Linked DNA regions of Homo sapiens: regions 1 and 2 are each linked to region 3. Evidence: fine-mapped QTL for protein levels in blood plasma. A gene starts in region 3. Each other region holds a variant in brackets. All regions are shown on one strand. Distances are from middle to middle.

Region 1 (5,597 bases), 41 kb after region 3:
CTATCTTCATTCCATGTGACACAAAACAGCCACTATAAGGTTTTTTAAAAGAATTCTGGGGTTGCCTTTCCAATATATTTCCCCAATGTCTGGTTAAAGAATTAAGTGGGCCGGGTGCGGTGGCTCATGCCTGTAATCCCAGCACTTTGGGAGGCCGAGGCGGGCGGATCACGAGGTCAGGAGATCAAGACCATCCTGGCTAACACGGTGAAACACCGTCTGTACTAAAAATACAAAAAAATTAGCCGGGCGTGGTGGCGGGCACCTGTAGTCCCAACTACTCGGGAGGCTGAGGCAGGAGAATGGCATGCACCCGGGGGGCGGAGCTTGCAGTGAGCGGACATAGCGCCACTGCACTCCAGCCTGGGCGACAGAGCGAGACTCCGTCTCAAAAGAAAAAAAAGTGGATATAAATCTCCTCTTAACATTTTTATATCCCCAAGTCTTCGGATTTCTTGCTCTACTTTTTAACAAGAAATTCTTGGCATTCTAAATTTACTCAGTATGAACCACCATATTGTCCAGGTTTCTGTCAGCCTCACTCAATTTAGCAAAATGTTTTTTACCACTCACAGTTGCTGGAGCTAGCACATTAAATCCAGAATCTCTGATAAGTGTATCCATATTATTAAACTTGAGCCAATTTAAAGTTATATTCTTTCATTCCTGCTCTGAATCTATTTCCAATAATATTTTTCTAAGTTTCTACTAGCATGAATTAACAAAATATTGCAGTTCTTTTGCAATAACCAGTCTGAGATTCTCATTTGTAAAAGTTTTTGGCCCATGTCACACTTTCTGTACCAAATACTGAATCAGTTCAGTGCAGGTTTAAGCAGGAAGAAATGTAATAAAGGAAATTAAGTGTATCAGAAAGACTGGAGGAGCAGGTTCTAGGTCTGGTCTCCTAAAATGATGTTTCCATTAGTGAAATTACCATTGTTGAGGCCATCACCAGAACTACGCTGAAAGCAAGAAGCCATCATTATTATTGCCATTACAACTTCTCACACTCAGGAAGCTGGAGGAAAAAACACTTAATTCATAACAAAAATAGAAAGAAAGAGTAAAACTATTGTTATTCACAGATGACATGAATATGTACGTAGAAAGTCCTAAAGAATCTACAAAAAAAAAACCTGATAGAACTAATTGAATTTAGCAAAATCTCAATAGATGAGTTCAATGTATAAAAATCAATTACATTTCTATAAACTAGCAACAATTAGAAAATAAAAATTTTAAAATACCATTCTATAGAAGCTTCAAAAATACCAAATATCTAAAAATAAATGTAATATTAAGATATAAGAGCAATACACTAAAACCACAGACACTGCTGAAAGAAACTAGTGACATAAATAGAGAAATATATTGTGTTCACAGATTAGAAGATTAAGTATAGTTAGGATATAAGTTTTCCTCCCAAATTGATTGACAGATTCACGGTGATTTCACTCAAAATTCCAGTAGTCTTTTGGTAAGAAATTGACAAGCTGATTCTAAAACGTATATGAAAACACAAAGAATCTAGAATCACCAAAATGATCTTGAAAAAAAATTGACTTGGAAATCTTACGCTATCTGATAACAATAACTACTTATAAAGCCTCAGTAATGAAGATAATGTGGTATTGGCGTAAGGATTAAAAAAAATCATTGAGCAGAAAGGGAAGCTAGAAGTTGTCCTAGATCTTATAGAGTCAACTGAGTTTTGAATAATGCAATAGGAAAAATAAAGTCTTAACAAATGGTGTAGGAGGTGGGTATCTGAGGATCTCAACTGAACCACAACCACAACCTCATTCTGTACATAAAATTTTGAGATTCGTGGTTCTCTTCAAATTACCTCTATTTAACAAAAATTATCACTGAGAATGCAAGAGAAAGGAGGTCTTGATTGTCTGAGGAGAAGGTATGACAGAGTTGTCTAGAAGAATAGTAATGGACCAAGAAAATGTAGTATATTTGTTGGCACAATTAAAGACTCATTTGAAGTTTGTGATTTATTAACTATGGTTGGAATTTTGTCCAATGGGTATGAAAGACATAACCGTGGAAGAATTAATGTAACTTTCTGTGTTTTCGTTTTCTCATCTGAAAATAGAGATAATAGTACCTCCACAAATAGTTGTTGAATTAAATGAATTAACATACATAAAGCATTTAGAATAGTGATTGGCTCAGTAAATGCTATCTAACTGGTTTTTGCTATGTTATTAGTAGTATTATTTAGGTAGGTAGTTATTAAAATGGTTAAGACTGAACTCTGAAGCCAGTCTACACTATTTAGGATCTAAGCCCAGCTCTAGTACTTACTAACTATATAATATCACCTGGGAAAGCCATGGAACCTCTCTGTGCCTCAGTTTCCTCATCTGTAAAAGGGGAATGATAACCATAACCTACCTCATGGAGTTTCCTTTATGGGGATTAAATGAGTCAGTATGTGTAAAATACTTAGAATAATGCCTGGTAGTTGATACTCATGGATAGCTATTATTTAAATTAGTATTGTTATCATTCTTAAGACTGTCCTAAATTCATCCTGCAAATATGTGCAAAATTCTCCTAGTCTTTCCATCATTTCTTGAGAATAAACTGGTAATGTGAATAGTGTTCATTAACTCGTTTAAACCAGTGCAATTCAAATTGGGTAACA[T/C]ATCCAAGGTCACACAGCTAGTAACTATAACATAAACAATTTACTACTATACTGCTTCTTAACACACTATATAATTCTGTTCTAAAGAGACAAGTTAATCAAGTACAGGTATTAGTATATTAAATTACAAATTAGCTATGAAAGCTGCTAGTTAAGTATAGTTTGATGTACCTTTAAAACTAGTAATAAAATTTGAGAAGATAATCCAAAAAGGTGTTGGTGGATAACTTTTCCCCCTTCTCATTTGGGCATATTGTTACCTTATTTATAAAAACAGAAAAATTGGACTACTATTGATTATATTGATATTAGAAGTATGTTTCTGGAAAACTTAGACATTTTAATCTGCAGTTTCAGTTTAATCTTAGTAAAAATATTATGATGTTGCAATACCATGTTTAAACAAAAAATTTTAAATAGTACCTGATTGTCCTGTCTTCTACTGATAGCTGTATCATCTTCATTTTCCCAAAGACACTGACTTAAAGGAAATGACAGGTTTGAAAGTCATTAAAACATGATCCCATGAATATTAGCTTTTCATATTTTATGTATTTTATTTGATGCTCTGTAAACACAAATATTGAAAATTTTCAAAGTCAGCCTGAGACCATTATCATATGTTCTTTCAGACTCATTAGTAATCCATGTAAAGCTACATTTAGTATGAGTAATAAAATCATATTTTATTATATTATAGCTAAATTCTAGTTCAATATCTATAGCAAGATAAAATTACTTGAAATTTTAGAAACATATTTGTTTATTGTTCTTTTGTGAATAACTGTTTATAAGAACCCTTAATTTCAAAAGACTGTGTAAAACTCGTCTAAGTACTATAATTTTGAATAAAATGATACCAGTGTGAAAATCAAGCATATTGATTAGTTTACCTATAACCAAGAACTTAAGAGAGGCAGGATAATTAGTTCTAATGAAGGGAAACAAAGACAGAAATTTTTCTGTCATCAAGTTGTCCCAATGATAAAAGTACTACAATAGAAATAAATTTAAGTTATGAATTATCCCTTATTATCTTGGAGAGGAATGTTAGCAAAAAACAGTAAAGATCTGAATCAAGGTAATTTTAATTAAAATATCACTAATTTCACTCATATCTTTAAGTAGAAGTCTTTATAACAATACTCTGAATATCTTACTCTTTTTCTTATTGTTTAGATTATGGCATGTGGAATCAGCATCTATACTAATTACCTTTTTTTAGTGCCAAAGCAATCATTATTTGAATCTTCCAATGATCCTGGCAACTCAGAATTTCCAATTTGATTTTTTGCAATTTGGCTTTTTTCTGCAGTGGCTTTTCCCCCAGCTGATGTTGATGGTCATCCACAGCAAATAAAGTTCAGAATGTTAGGAAAATAGTAAAATAAACGTTTGTTTTTATACATGTACACTATAATCTTATCGTAGATTTCAGAATCCCCATGAACTTTCCTATATAGATATAAGTCAATAGTTTCCAAAGTGAATTTCATGAAATATTTGTTTATGTGAAAAGAAAATTATTTGGTTAATTCAGCTTGGGAAATGTTGAATTAAGCAACATCAAACAGCAACACAACCCCCTACACACACATTCACTCCTATTAAAGGGTTTGTCTCCATGTACAACTAAATCTGCAAGAGCGGGGTAGGTAAGTTGGGGGTTTCCTGAAATATAATTTTTTTTTTTTGAGATAGAGACTTGCTCTGTCGCCCAGGCTGGAGTGCAGTGGTGCAATCTCAGTTCACTGTAGCCTCTGCCTCCCAGGTTCAAGCGATTCTCCTGCCTCAGCCTCCCAAGTAGCTGGGATTACAGGCATGTGCTACCACGCCCAGCGAATTTTTGTATTTTTAGTATAGACAGGGTTTCACCAGGTTGGCAAGGCTTGTCTTGAACTCCTGACCTCAGGTGATATGCCCACCTTGGCCTCCCAAAGTGCTGAAATTACAGGCATAAGCCACTGCGTTCGGCCTTAATTGTCTTTACAAACCGTTTGCCAAAGCAGTTTTTGAAACAGTGCTCTGAGGAACCTTCTCTGGAAAATGCTGGTATAAATACAGAACATAAAATGTCATTTTTTATTTCACATACATTTTCATTGATAAAATCTCCCTTCATTTTAACAAAATTTCTCAATATAGGAAAACTAAACAATCCATCTTTGAAATATTAACACTAATGTTCCACATGGTCTATATAAACAAAAGATACACGAACCTGGCAGTATTAATTCAGATTTTTTTCCCTTGGAGAAATCAATTTTTTTAATTCATAAAAGAATAAGTGAGCCAAATTAATATTTGAAAAGTCATTTTACAAGAGTTGTTGCTGGGCATGGTGGCTTATGCCTGTAAACCCAGCACTGTGGGAGGCTGGGCAGGAGGATAGCTTGAGCCCAGTAGTTCAAGACCAGCCTGGGCAATATCTCTAGAAAAATAAAATAAATTAGCCAGGCATGGTGGTGCATGCCTGTGTTCCCAGCTACTTGGGAGACTAGGGTGGGAGGATGTCTTGATCCTGGAAGGTTGAGGCTGTAGTGAGCCATGATCACCCTGCTGTTCTCCAGCCTGGGCATCAGAGCAAGACCCTGTCTCAAAAAAAAAAAAAAAAAAAAAGACTTGCCAAACTATTGTGCAACCTGGAGCCCATACTGATTTTTGTTTGGCTGCTACAATTTATTTCCCACCTGGTATTGAAATTGTCACTTAAGAACAACAAACAGAGGCTGGGTATGGCGGCTCATGTCTGTAATCCCAGGACTTTGGGAGGCCGAGGCGGGTGGATCACTTGAGGTCAGAAGTTCAAGATCAGCCTGGCCAACATGGTAAAACCCTGTCTCTACTAAAAATATAAAAATTAGCCAGGTGTGGTGGCACGTGCCTGTAATCCCAGCTACTCGGGAGGCTGGGGCAGGAGAATAGCTTGAATCCA
Region 2 (5,528 bases), 22 kb after region 3:
GTAGTTGATTCTGGGCAGAAGGACTTTTTAGGGTGGAAGGTGAACATAAGACCAGAATCTAATTTATGGCTCATAATCAGGTGTATGTTAAGTCACCAATAAAGTGCAGACCTAACAGACTCTGAGAATGTATCTGTAAGACCTAGAAAAGGATGTACTTTTCTCCTCCATTGCCATTACCTTTTGACTTGGCTGATTCATCATAAACAAAATCTTCTGTAGACCTCCTAGCCAGGCACACTTCTAGCAACTACAGAGAATACAAAAAAGCACATAAGCTGGTTTTAGAGGACCAGAGCATTGATTCCCCTTAACTTTGGTTGCATACCAGCATTATCTAATGAAACATTAAAACACAAAACAAATATATGCCCTAGCATTAACCCTGGAGAATTCTGATTCAATAGGTTTCATGTGGTGTGGGACCCAGGAATCTGTATTTTAAAAGCTCCGCAAGTGATTCAGATGTACGCCTTGGCTAATAATCACTGGCTAAGGGCAAGGAAAGAATCTTAGGACATGAAAAGGAGCTCAAGTAGAATCTATTAGGAGGCTCGTTTCTGTAATCTTTGCCATTGTTAAAAGTGCCATAAGCAATAATACCTAGAAAGTACAGATGTTCCTTGATTTATGATTGTATTGTGTCCTAATAAACCCATAAACATATGATAAGTTGAAAATGAACGAAATACCCTGATAAATCCATCGTAAAGTCTAAAAATTGTAAGTTGAACCATTGTAAGTCAGGGACCATTTGTATCAAATATAGAACCATGGAATTATAGAATAGGAAAGTGTTATGCCCTAAAATTTTTATTTCATTGTATCCTTTTTGAATAATTGGATTTAGGAAACTTTTTTCCCTCTTACTGTACTGTATACTTCTTTTATTTTTCCCTTTCCTGTGGTGCTGAATTGTACTAAATACTTTAAAATCTCCATTTTAATTTATTTATATAGGATCCTGCTGGCCACTTTCATCAAGTATGGTATGATAACCCTCAGAGTATTTCTTTAAAGGCAACATATATACAAAACTATCGCTTACGGGGCATTGGCATGTGGAATGCAAACTGTCTTGACTACTCTGGAGATGCTGTAGCCAAACAGCAAACTGAAGAAATGTGGGAAGTCTTAAAGCCAAAGCTGTTACAGAGATGAACATCTTTTGTCAAACCATTAAGAGTTAGAAAGATGATCTGTATCAACAGATCTAGTTTCTTGCATTTTTATTATGTTGCTATATACTTTTGTTATCCGTATACTAAAAAAAAAGAATAAATAAATGTTTTGATTGTTTGAATTTGAAAAATACACACGAATGTCCTCAGTATCCAGGAACATAAAGGCAAGAAGCAAGTCAACTTACCTATTAAATATTCCTCTATTAGATGTTTCAACACTATAATTTAATTGGGAAAAATTGCTTTCAGAATTTTATTATGCCATATTTCCCTTCATTATAGTAAAATATATGCTCACGAATCAATGCTGATTTTTAAAATATGTATAATCTGAAGTGGAAATTGTTTGCTTAGAGTTTTTAAAAACCTAGTCTTTGAAAAGCAGTTTGTGCTATACTTTTCCCCCAACCCTCCAATAAATCTTAAATTTAAAACCTACAATGTAGTGTCTCCCCTTTAGGTTCATCAAACTGATGAAAATAATTTTTCTGCTTCCTGACTCCATATAGTATTTATGTTCTCTGAGGTACTTGAACTAAATCTTTGGACAGTGAGTGAGAATTAAAAAGAATCCAGAAGATTAAATGTATTCACAAAATAGAAGAATGTAACAGTAATATTTTGAATTGGTAAGTTAGAACTACCTAATATTTTCCAACTACATTATTTTTATGAGGCTCATTTGTAAAATTTTTAATAATAGGAATAACTTGCAGTTGAACTTGATTCTGTTCACTGTCACACTTCTAATTATTCATTTCTTCATTTATGGACATATATAATTTATTTCTTGGCTAGCTTGCTTACATGGTTAAATTTTTCTTTCTACATCTGCAATGTATCTTTTTTATTTTTATTTTTTGTAGAGACAGGGTCTCGCTATGTTGTCCAGATGGGTCTCCAACTCCTGGGCTCAAGCACTCCTCCTGCCTTGGCTTCCTAAAGAGCTGGGATTACAGGCATGAGCTGCATTGTGCTTTTAATGATCTAAAGACACTGATTAGCTTCTCAACTAGTTCTCTTTCTAAAAGATCAATTTTATACAAATAAGTTTTCTAAATGTAATAAAGTCTGTTTTCTTTCTCCAGGGAATTAAGAACAACATTGTGCTGCCCTTATTAGTTCCTAATTACAGATTAAAAATCTGTATCTTTGAACTCTAGATTTACATAAATCCTGGCTTCCCTGCACATTTTGCCCCTGTAAATTGGAATACATGATGATTGAACCATCTGTTATGAGAATATTACATTTCCTATTTACACAATTGTTTGTGACAGAGTAAAAACCATTTTCATAGTATATGTTGGATCACTGTTGTCTTCATATTTCTAAAATAAATGAATTAAAAAATTTAAATTCTTAGATGCTTATCTCTATCATAGCTCAGAATGCAACTTCAATACCCCCATTCTTTTATATTTCCAGATTTCTTTTAATTAAGATATAATGAACAAATTAAGTTAAATGAAGTCTGTATTTTCATGCAAATATATTAGTATTCATTAATATACATTTATTCTTTGCAAATAGATTTTAGTTATATTAGCTCTTAAATTGTTAAATAAATTATTATTGAATTTTATTATTAAATTATTAAAATGAAAATTATAAAATTAGCACTGTAAAATAATATGTAAAGGACTTGGAATGTTAAAAATAACCATTCATCATTTTGCTTTATATTACATCTAATATTTCCTGAAACATTTTGTAATACCCACATGGAAAGTGGAGAAAGAGAAACCTTGTGCTTTTTATAAAACATTGCCAAGGAGAATAATGGTTAAACAAATCTGTTCAAATACATATTTAAATTTTTTTACAAATAAAAGTTTTAAATTAACATACCTAATTGAGATTGTAGAGATGTATTATTTTTTTTTTCTGTGCCAGTTCAGTTTTCAATGTTCGTAAATCTGAAACTGCTTGTTTTCTCATCTATAAAAAGAATTACTTTTCAAAAATGAACTTCATCATACCCTTCTAAAAGTACATCATAGTTGTCATGTAAACAGGGTTTTTGTAACCGCTTTAACTGTCTTCTCTCATTTGGCTTCAGTGCTTTCAACTCCCACTGGATTACTACAGTAAATGTGTAGATTATGAATGCTGTTTAATAAGCATGCTTATCTACTGGTGAGATATGCTATAAGGTAACCTTGTTTATGAGTAGATAGGGACAATACAATTGAACTGTTCTAAAAACTAGAGTGAGAAAGAATTTTATGTTTTGCTTAAACTTCAAAACCTGTTGTTCTCAATGTGTAAAGAAAATAGTGAAAACAACAAGAAAACAAAATACAAAAAAAACCCTTAATTCCTAGCCCTTAGGAACGGAATAGATATTTCAGAAATATAGTGTTTACTCTGTGGCAAGCACTCTTCTAAGTGTATTAGTCTCTTATTTTTTTTTCAAAAATTTTACAGAATCAGATACTAGTATTTATCCCCATTTTACAGTTGAAATGGAGACCTTTAGAGGCTAAGTAACTTGCTCAAGATAAAAAACTAGTAAGTGAAGTGGGTACAGCCAGGATTCAAATTCAAACCACCTGGTACCAGAGCCCTTACTATTCCAAGTGTTGTCTGTGGACAGCAGCATTAGCATCAGTTGGGAGCTTGTTAGGTAGGAAGAATCTCAGGCTGCACCCAGACCTACTGAGTCAGATCCTGCATTTTTAAACAGGATCCTCAGATGATATATTAAACTTTGAGAAGCACTACTTATGCTATACTATCTTGAATAAATATGGTTGCAAGAGACTCAGGCTGGGTTTTTTTTGTCCCTTAGTTCTGAATCTTATAGGTAGTGCTGTTTTGGGGAGATCATTCAGAAATCAATAAAACTTCTTAAATAATGTCTGTTATGTGTCAATCAGGCACTATGGTTAAATACAGGATTTTTTCCCCCCAGCCTATAAGCTGAAAACTTTGTTCTCTTTTTTTCCTCTTATTCCACTTGTCCTTACTGTTTTTGTATGAACAATTCTAATTTGAGTTCAAACCATGAGTGACATTTGTAATGTTAAAATATACAAAGATTACAAGTAATGT[G/T]CATGCTTTCCAGAAGAAAACAGCATGAGGGGAGTCATAATCCAAGCCTCTGGGGGCATTTTTATTACTCCTTCCTACCTACCCAATTATTAAGTGTACAAGTTTACATATTGGCTTTATCTCCATATATTGAATAGACAGTTTTCCTTCATTGAACAAATTATTTTTTGAGTGCATATTTAACTGATATTTTGTTAAAAATTATCCTCTGCTCTTTTCCTTTTCTATTTTAAGTTTTAAGCTTCTCAGTGCCAAACCAGGGCTTATTTAGCCTCGAGAATGCTGCTTGTAAAAAGAATCTAGAACTGCACTGTCCAGTATAGTAGAAGCCAGTTGCCATATGTAACTACTAAACTTAAATTAACTAAAATTAAATAAAATTTAAAATTCAGTTCCTCAGTCACACAAACTACATTTCAAGTGCTCAATATCAATAGGTGGCTAGTGGGTACCAATCTGACAGTGCAGGCATAGAACATTTCTATCATCACATAAGTTCTGTTGGACAGTGCTAATTCTATTTTTTTATTTTTAAATTTTATTTATTTTTATTTTTATCTGAAACCGAGGACAGTACTGATTTTCTTTTTTCTTTTTAAAATTTTTTTAAAAAGAGCTAATTCTAGAATGCAGTCATTATTCTGTGTCATAAAGCTGTTTCTGATAAAGAAATGAGAGCATTCATATAATTATCGTTCTCATTTTCCTGCCTTGCTGTGGGTACTTGTATGAAAATGTATAATCTTCTGTTTTCTGTTCAACAAAAAAGCTTTTTAATACATATGTACTTCACAGATAATTTCTATGATGTAATTAGTTGTACACAATTCTCACCAAATAGAGCATGCCCAGAAGCCTCTACTAAGCATCTGCTATACAAAAGGTCCCATGGGAGAAACAAAGTTAACTAAGGCATAGTCTCTGCCAGGAAGGAAACTTAACATCTAGTAGAAGACACATTATTCATATTTAAATAATAGAATACATATGAAAATAACCAGAAAAAATGAAACGATTACCCATAAAAAATTAAATGTCAGTTCAGAGGAGAGCTCAGTGGTTTATCAGACTTAATAATTCTAATACAGGAAAACTACTTAAAATTTTTTTTGAGAATATATTGACTCACAGGTTCCTTTTCCTTTAATTCTTCCTAGTAAAATTTTACTAAATTTTACTTTGGCTTTATTATATCATGTATCTTTTCACAGGTTTAGTTTTTCTTCCTGCATTTTTTTTTTCACCTATGCTCTTTACTGTTAAGGTAACAATTTTAATACAGTCAAT
Region 3 (5,597 bases):
ACCCTACAGTGAAATTCAAAGTTAAAAGCACCAGCTATCTACTTGGAGCTTCCTCTCTTTGTACTTTTTAATTTTTACTTTTAATCATGGACAGCAACCAAGAAAATCCAATAATGTAGAAGGAAGGGACCCAAACAACAGACAAAGGAATATGGAGGAAGCAGATGCTGCAGGATTGGATTAACTGTAGTACGTCCCAACAATGAAGTATTATTCAGTGCTAAAAAGAAATGAGCAATCAAGCCATGAAGGGACATGGAGGAACCATAAATGCGTATTACTAAGTGAAGGAAGCCAATCTGAAAAGCTATATACTGTAAGATTCCAACTATGTGACATTCTGGAAAAGGCAAAACTATGGAGACAGTGTAAAAATCTGTGGATGCCAGTGGTTAGCAAGGAGAGAGGAATGAATAGGTAGAGCACAGATAATTTTGAGGGCAGTGAAACTATTCTGTATGATACTATAATGCTGGATACACATCATTATACATTTGTCAAAGCCCATAGAATGTACAGCACCAATATAAAATTCAATACAAATATGTAGGAATTCCTCATTTGGTTAGTATGCAGAAAAGAGTTACCGTAACAGGCCTAAGACTGCGATCTTTAGAAAGGCCTGCTTCCTGAAGGTTGGCCTGTAGGTGGATTTGGGAGTGTTCCTGCTGTTCCCTGAGTCTCTAATGAGCTTCCATGGCAGACAGCCCTTCACACATGTTACAACGTGATGCTTGTGCTTGGCCTCCTCCTGTCTTCTTCCTGTGCACTTTTTCCCTTTGCTCTTTTGCTTCATATTCTTCTGCTGTAATAAATCTTAACTGTGAGTACAACTGAGTCCTATGAGTTCTTTTAGTGCATCACTGAACCTGGAGGTGATCTTAGGGATCCCTAACACAGGTAGATATGTGTTTTCTTCTGTGTCACAGAATACAGTCTGATTCTATGAGTCAGAAGGCTCTTTTCCTTGAAAACTTGATTCAGTGCAACCATTCATGTTAAAAACATAGTTACATTTCAGTATCATGAGGGATTGGTTCCAGGACTCCCAGATACCAAAATCCATGGATGCTCAAGTCCCTTATATAAAATGGCATAATCTATGCACATCCTCCTGTACTTCAAATAATCTCTAGATTAATTATAATAATACGATGTAATGCTATGTTGACAGTGCTCTTGCCGTATTTTTATTTGCATTTTTAAATTGCTGTATTATTTGTTATTTTTAAATACTGTTATCTGACATTGGTTAAAACCATGGATGTGGAACCTCTGGTTATGGAGGTTCAATTGTACTTTTTTTTTTTTTGAGACAGGATCTTGTTTTGTCACCCAGGCTGGAGTGCAGTGGCATGATCATAGTTCACTTCAGCCTCAACCTCCCGGCTTCAAGCAATCCTCTCATCTCAGCCTCCCGAGCAGCTGGGACTACAAGCTTTTACCACCGCACTGGCACACAGGGCTAATTTTTTGCTTTTTATTTTTTGTAGAGACAGGGTCTATGTTCCCCAGGCTGGTCTCAAACTCCTGCCCTCAAGTAATCCTCCTGCCTTGGCCTGCCAAAGTTATGCAATTGCAGGTGTGAGCCACAGTGCCTGGCCTAGCTTTTCATTCTGAAAACGCGTGTTCTTCAGTCCTGGAGCCTTGATAATTACTTATTTCTTTTCTTTTCTTTTTTTTTTTTTTTTTTGGAGACAGAGTCTCACTCTGTTGCTGAGGCTGGAGTGCAGTGGTGTGATCTCTGCAACCTCCACCTCCCAGGTTCAAGCGATTCTCCTGCCTCAGCCTTCCGAGTAGCTGGGATTACAGGTGTCTGCCACCATGCCCAGATAATTTTTGTATTTTTAGTAGAGATGGGGTTTCACAATGTTGGCCAGGCTGGTCTCAAACTCCTGAGCTCAAGTGATCTGCCCACCTCGGCCTCCCACAGTGCCGGGATTACAAGCATGAACCACTGTGCCCAGCCCAAATTACTTATTTCTTCTTATTTGTACTACGCTGCTTCTCAAGCACCTTTAAGAATTATTTATTTCATCCCCTCTGTACTGCGTTTTCCAATTTTCTTATCTTTCAGAGTTTTTGCTCTACATTCCTCAGTGTTATCTTCTACTAATAGTTTTTTCACTTCTTTCTTATTTCTATTAACTTTTAAAAATCCCCTACCCCTTTTATTGCACCCTGTTGTGGCTTCATCTTCTCTTATTTTTCTGGGGCTATTATGAGAATTTTTAAAAGTGTTCTCCCTGCAGCATCTGCTTCCTCCATATTCCTTTGTCTGTTGTTTGGGTCCCTTCTTTCTACATTATTGGATTTTTTTGGTTGCTGTCCATGATTAAAAGTAAAAATTAAAAAGTACAAAGAGAGGAAGCTCCAAGTAGATAGCTGGTGCTTTTAACTTTGAATTTCACTGTAGGGTGATCTGGGTGTATGATTTGTCCAGAAAACCCGATGTCAGTATCTTTGCTCAGCCTCTTAGGTTAATCAGATAGCGAGGGGTTTCAGTTTTCAGTAGGCATAAAGCCACTTATTCTCCGTTTTAGGTGGAATACCCACTCAGCAGAGAATTTATCCCCTTCAGGGAATTCAGCCGGGGTGGGAGCCCGTGGTGGGAAAGAGGGGCAGCTGCCCAGAGACATGAAGCTGGAAAAAGGATCTAGCGATCAGAGTCCTTGAGCAGCCTTTGACTAATCTCCCCCTTTTCCGATTTACCTCTCATACTCATACTTGTGCTCTCCAGCTTCCAACATTTTGTTGCTGTTATCTCTTTGTCCTTGTGTTTAGGTTGTTAAACTTGATTTTTAACAGGAGAGTAGGCAAAATTAGATGCTTGAATTCAAACCACGATCTTAACTAAGACCTGATATCCGTAAGTAAAAATTTTTGGTATTCCAGCTTTCTTTTGAGTAGCAAAAGAAAAACAAAGTCTTTTGGCCACTCCAACCATGTTACTCAGTAGGCCCTTCCAAAGACACCCACTTCTCCATTTTGGGGATCCCCTTGTACCTTCAGACTCCACAAGGAGTACACGACCAGCCACGACAAAACGAGATGCAGACTATTGGGAGGACTATAAACGGTAGGGGTGATACCCATTTGAGTCCACGAACGGCCCTCTCGGCGCCGCAGACACTGGCTGTCCCCCGAGACGCTCCAGCAGCCACTTAACTTCACCCACCTGTAGCGCCCGGGGACGCTCGAAGCCCGACCTCCCACGCCCGCCCCGGAGCCCCGCCCCTCCCGCCCCTCCCCGCCCTTCCCGACTCTCCCCGCCCCTTCCTGCCCCGACGCGCAGCAGGCCCCGCCCACCCAGGCGGTAGGAACCCACTCCGGCCCGCTAGACCTGCTGCTATGTCCCGGCCGCAGCTTCGACGCTGGCGCCTCGTCTCTAGCCCGCCGAGCGGCGTCCCGGGTCTAGCGCTGCTGGCGCTGCTGGCGCTGCTGGCGCTGCGGCTCGCGGCCGGGACCGACTGCCCATGCCCGGAGCCTGAGCTCTGCCGCCCGATTCGCCACCATCCAGATTTCGAGGTCAGCGCCTTCCTCTGCTCCTCTAGGTCTGGGCTTCAGGGCACGAAGAGAAGTTAGGGTAGAACGGAGCCCTAAGGAGAGGTGCCGTGGGCGCCGAAACCAGCTTTGACCACTCGATGAGGGCCTTCCTGTTTACGGATCCTTCAATTTATAGATGAGGAAGCTCGGGCTCAGAGAAGTTGAGTAACTCCTCAGGCCTCACAGCCTGTAAGTGCCTGCGTAGGCAGGCGAGAGTTCAAACCAGATCTGCCTCCTAAGGCAAGCTCCTTTCATTCCCCTGCTGTGCCTCTGCGGAAGCACTCTGGGTGTAAAAAGCAAACAAGGTAGGATAATCCATTTATGTTTCCAAGGAACGAGGATTTCGTTTGAAAGAATCTCAGCACTCCAACAGTACATTAGAATGCAGAGTATTTTGCTTACCTTTAGTTTTCTATACCTGCTAGCCCTTTCCTTTAAAGTACCTCAAAACCACCCATGAAGAGTGGTAAAAAAAATAGCTTTCAGTACATTTTCCTTCTATCTACATAACAATTTGTAAGGCTTCTGGCAACTTTAATCAAACACCTTCTGGAGCAATATTAAAACCACCTGACTGCCCACTTCGATGACTGAAAGCAGGAATTGGATGACATCAGGAAGGTCCAAAGGCTTAATTCAAAGAACGATTCTTTTGTAGAAATAGGCATGATTCCTAGTTCTTAATCTAGTACATTAATCTGAGGCAGAACACTTAGATGCCAGTAAAAAAGTATATATACATGACTTAGGAGAAGAAATAAAAATGGTGAAAGTGTTTATGGAGAACCTGCCTAGTGTGGAAACCTAACATCTTATTAAAAGAAAGACTTCAGACAAAGTAGGATAACCTTTTTTATTTGAGCAAAGAACAACTTATGAATCGGCAGTACTTAAACCAGAAGGGGTTCAGAGAGGTCTGCTTTAGTAGCATGGGCTTTTATAGGCCGAACAGGGAAGCAAAGGAAAATAATTACTTGGTTGGCTATGACTGTTTGCCTTATTTAGCTATGACTTGGTGGAAAATTACTAGTTAGAGGTTAGTTGGCAGTTTCTGATAGGTTAAGCTTAAGTTTCCTTTCACTGTTGACCTTGGGCTGGAGTTTGCTTAAGCAGGAAATCCAAGGCAGTTGGAGCTGTTTCAGCATAATGGCCTCCCAATTAAAATGTTTTATACAATCTGAGGCCCAGCGCGGTGGTAGAGGCAGTGGGGACAGTAGCTGTAAAAGTTCAACCAGACATTTCTTAATTTTCTCAATCTCTTTTTGAGATTGAGAAGCACTTTGTGAGGCCAAGGTGGGTGGATCACTTGAGGTCAGGAATTCGAGAACAGCCTGGCCAACATGGTGAAACCCCGTCTCTACTAAAAATACAAAAATTAGCTGGGCGTGGTGGCGGGCACATGTAATCCGAACTACTTGGGAGGCTGAGGCAGGAGAACCGCTTGAACCTGGGAGGCGGAGCGGGAGGCGGAAGGTTGCAGTTAGCCAAGATCACGCCACTGCACTCCAGCCTGGGCGACAGAGCAAGACTATGTCTCAAAAAAGAGAAAAAAAAAAAACCTGAAAGATTTACTGTAGTACCCAATACTTAGTGGGTTAGGCAATATCTGTGGGCACTTTGAAAACCAACTATTCAAAGAAGCAAAATTATGCTTATTTGTATCTTCATGGTAAATGGTCTTTTTCTCTACTGGCGTTTTCTATGTTTTTCAAACACAAAAACTAGACTACATGGCATTTTCCCCTTATATTTTCAATTAGTTCACCCAGCTTTTTTTTTTTTTAAGGATATCTGTTATATCACAGGCTCTTAGTATTTTTTAAACAAATAGAATCTTAATTATCAGAACTAAAATAGAAGTTTTGATAGAAATATGAGTCAGAAAACAATGGGCCACTTAATTTCACATTATGAATTTTTATTATTTCAGTAGGCAATTGCTTAGCAGAAAAAATGAGTTATGCATAATTAATTCTGAAAAGTTAAAAAAAATTAAAAAAAATTAAGAAATGCCTGGTTTAACTTTTACAGCTGCTATCCCCACTGTCTCT

Evidence for each region. PIP is the posterior inclusion probability: the model's chance that the variant is causal. The UK Biobank Pharma Proteomics Project read protein levels with antibody pairs (Olink). The fine-mapping took linkage between variants from a reference panel, not from the people measured, so its PIPs are less certain.
Region 1: its variant is fine-mapped to the plasma level of the CTBS protein (UK Biobank, PIP above 0.99).
Region 2: its variant is fine-mapped to the plasma level of the CTBS protein (UK Biobank, PIP above 0.99).

The regions. Positions count from the first base shown.
Region 1 is chr1:84,531,255-84,536,851 of GRCh38, reverse strand. It overlaps SPATA1 (spermatogenesis associated 1), which reads right to left. Exons shown (of 14, transcript NM_001397487.1): 7 at 3,878-3,992; 8 at 3,086-3,143. Among named protein-coding and RNA genes, the nearest start is that of GNG5, 27 kb to the right of the region's middle. The variant T/C (reference allele first, on the strand shown) is at 2,663.
Region 2 is chr1:84,550,632-84,556,159 of GRCh38, reverse strand. It overlaps SPATA1 (spermatogenesis associated 1), which reads right to left. Exons shown (of 14, transcript NM_001397487.1): 13 at 181-250. CTBS (chitobiase) reads left to right here. Exons shown (of 7, transcript NM_004388.3): 7 at 961-5,528. The coding sequence ends at 1,161. Among named protein-coding and RNA genes, the nearest start is that of CTBS, 21 kb to the left of the region's middle. The variant G/T (reference allele first, on the strand shown) is at 4,242.
Region 3 is chr1:84,572,170-84,577,766 of GRCh38, reverse strand. It overlaps CTBS (chitobiase), which reads left to right and starts at 3,327. Exons shown (of 7, transcript NM_004388.3): 1 at 3,327-3,528. The coding sequence starts at 3,352. RefSeq lists a silencer at 3,195-3,314 and enhancers at 3,475-3,764, 3,875-3,974, 4,688-4,737.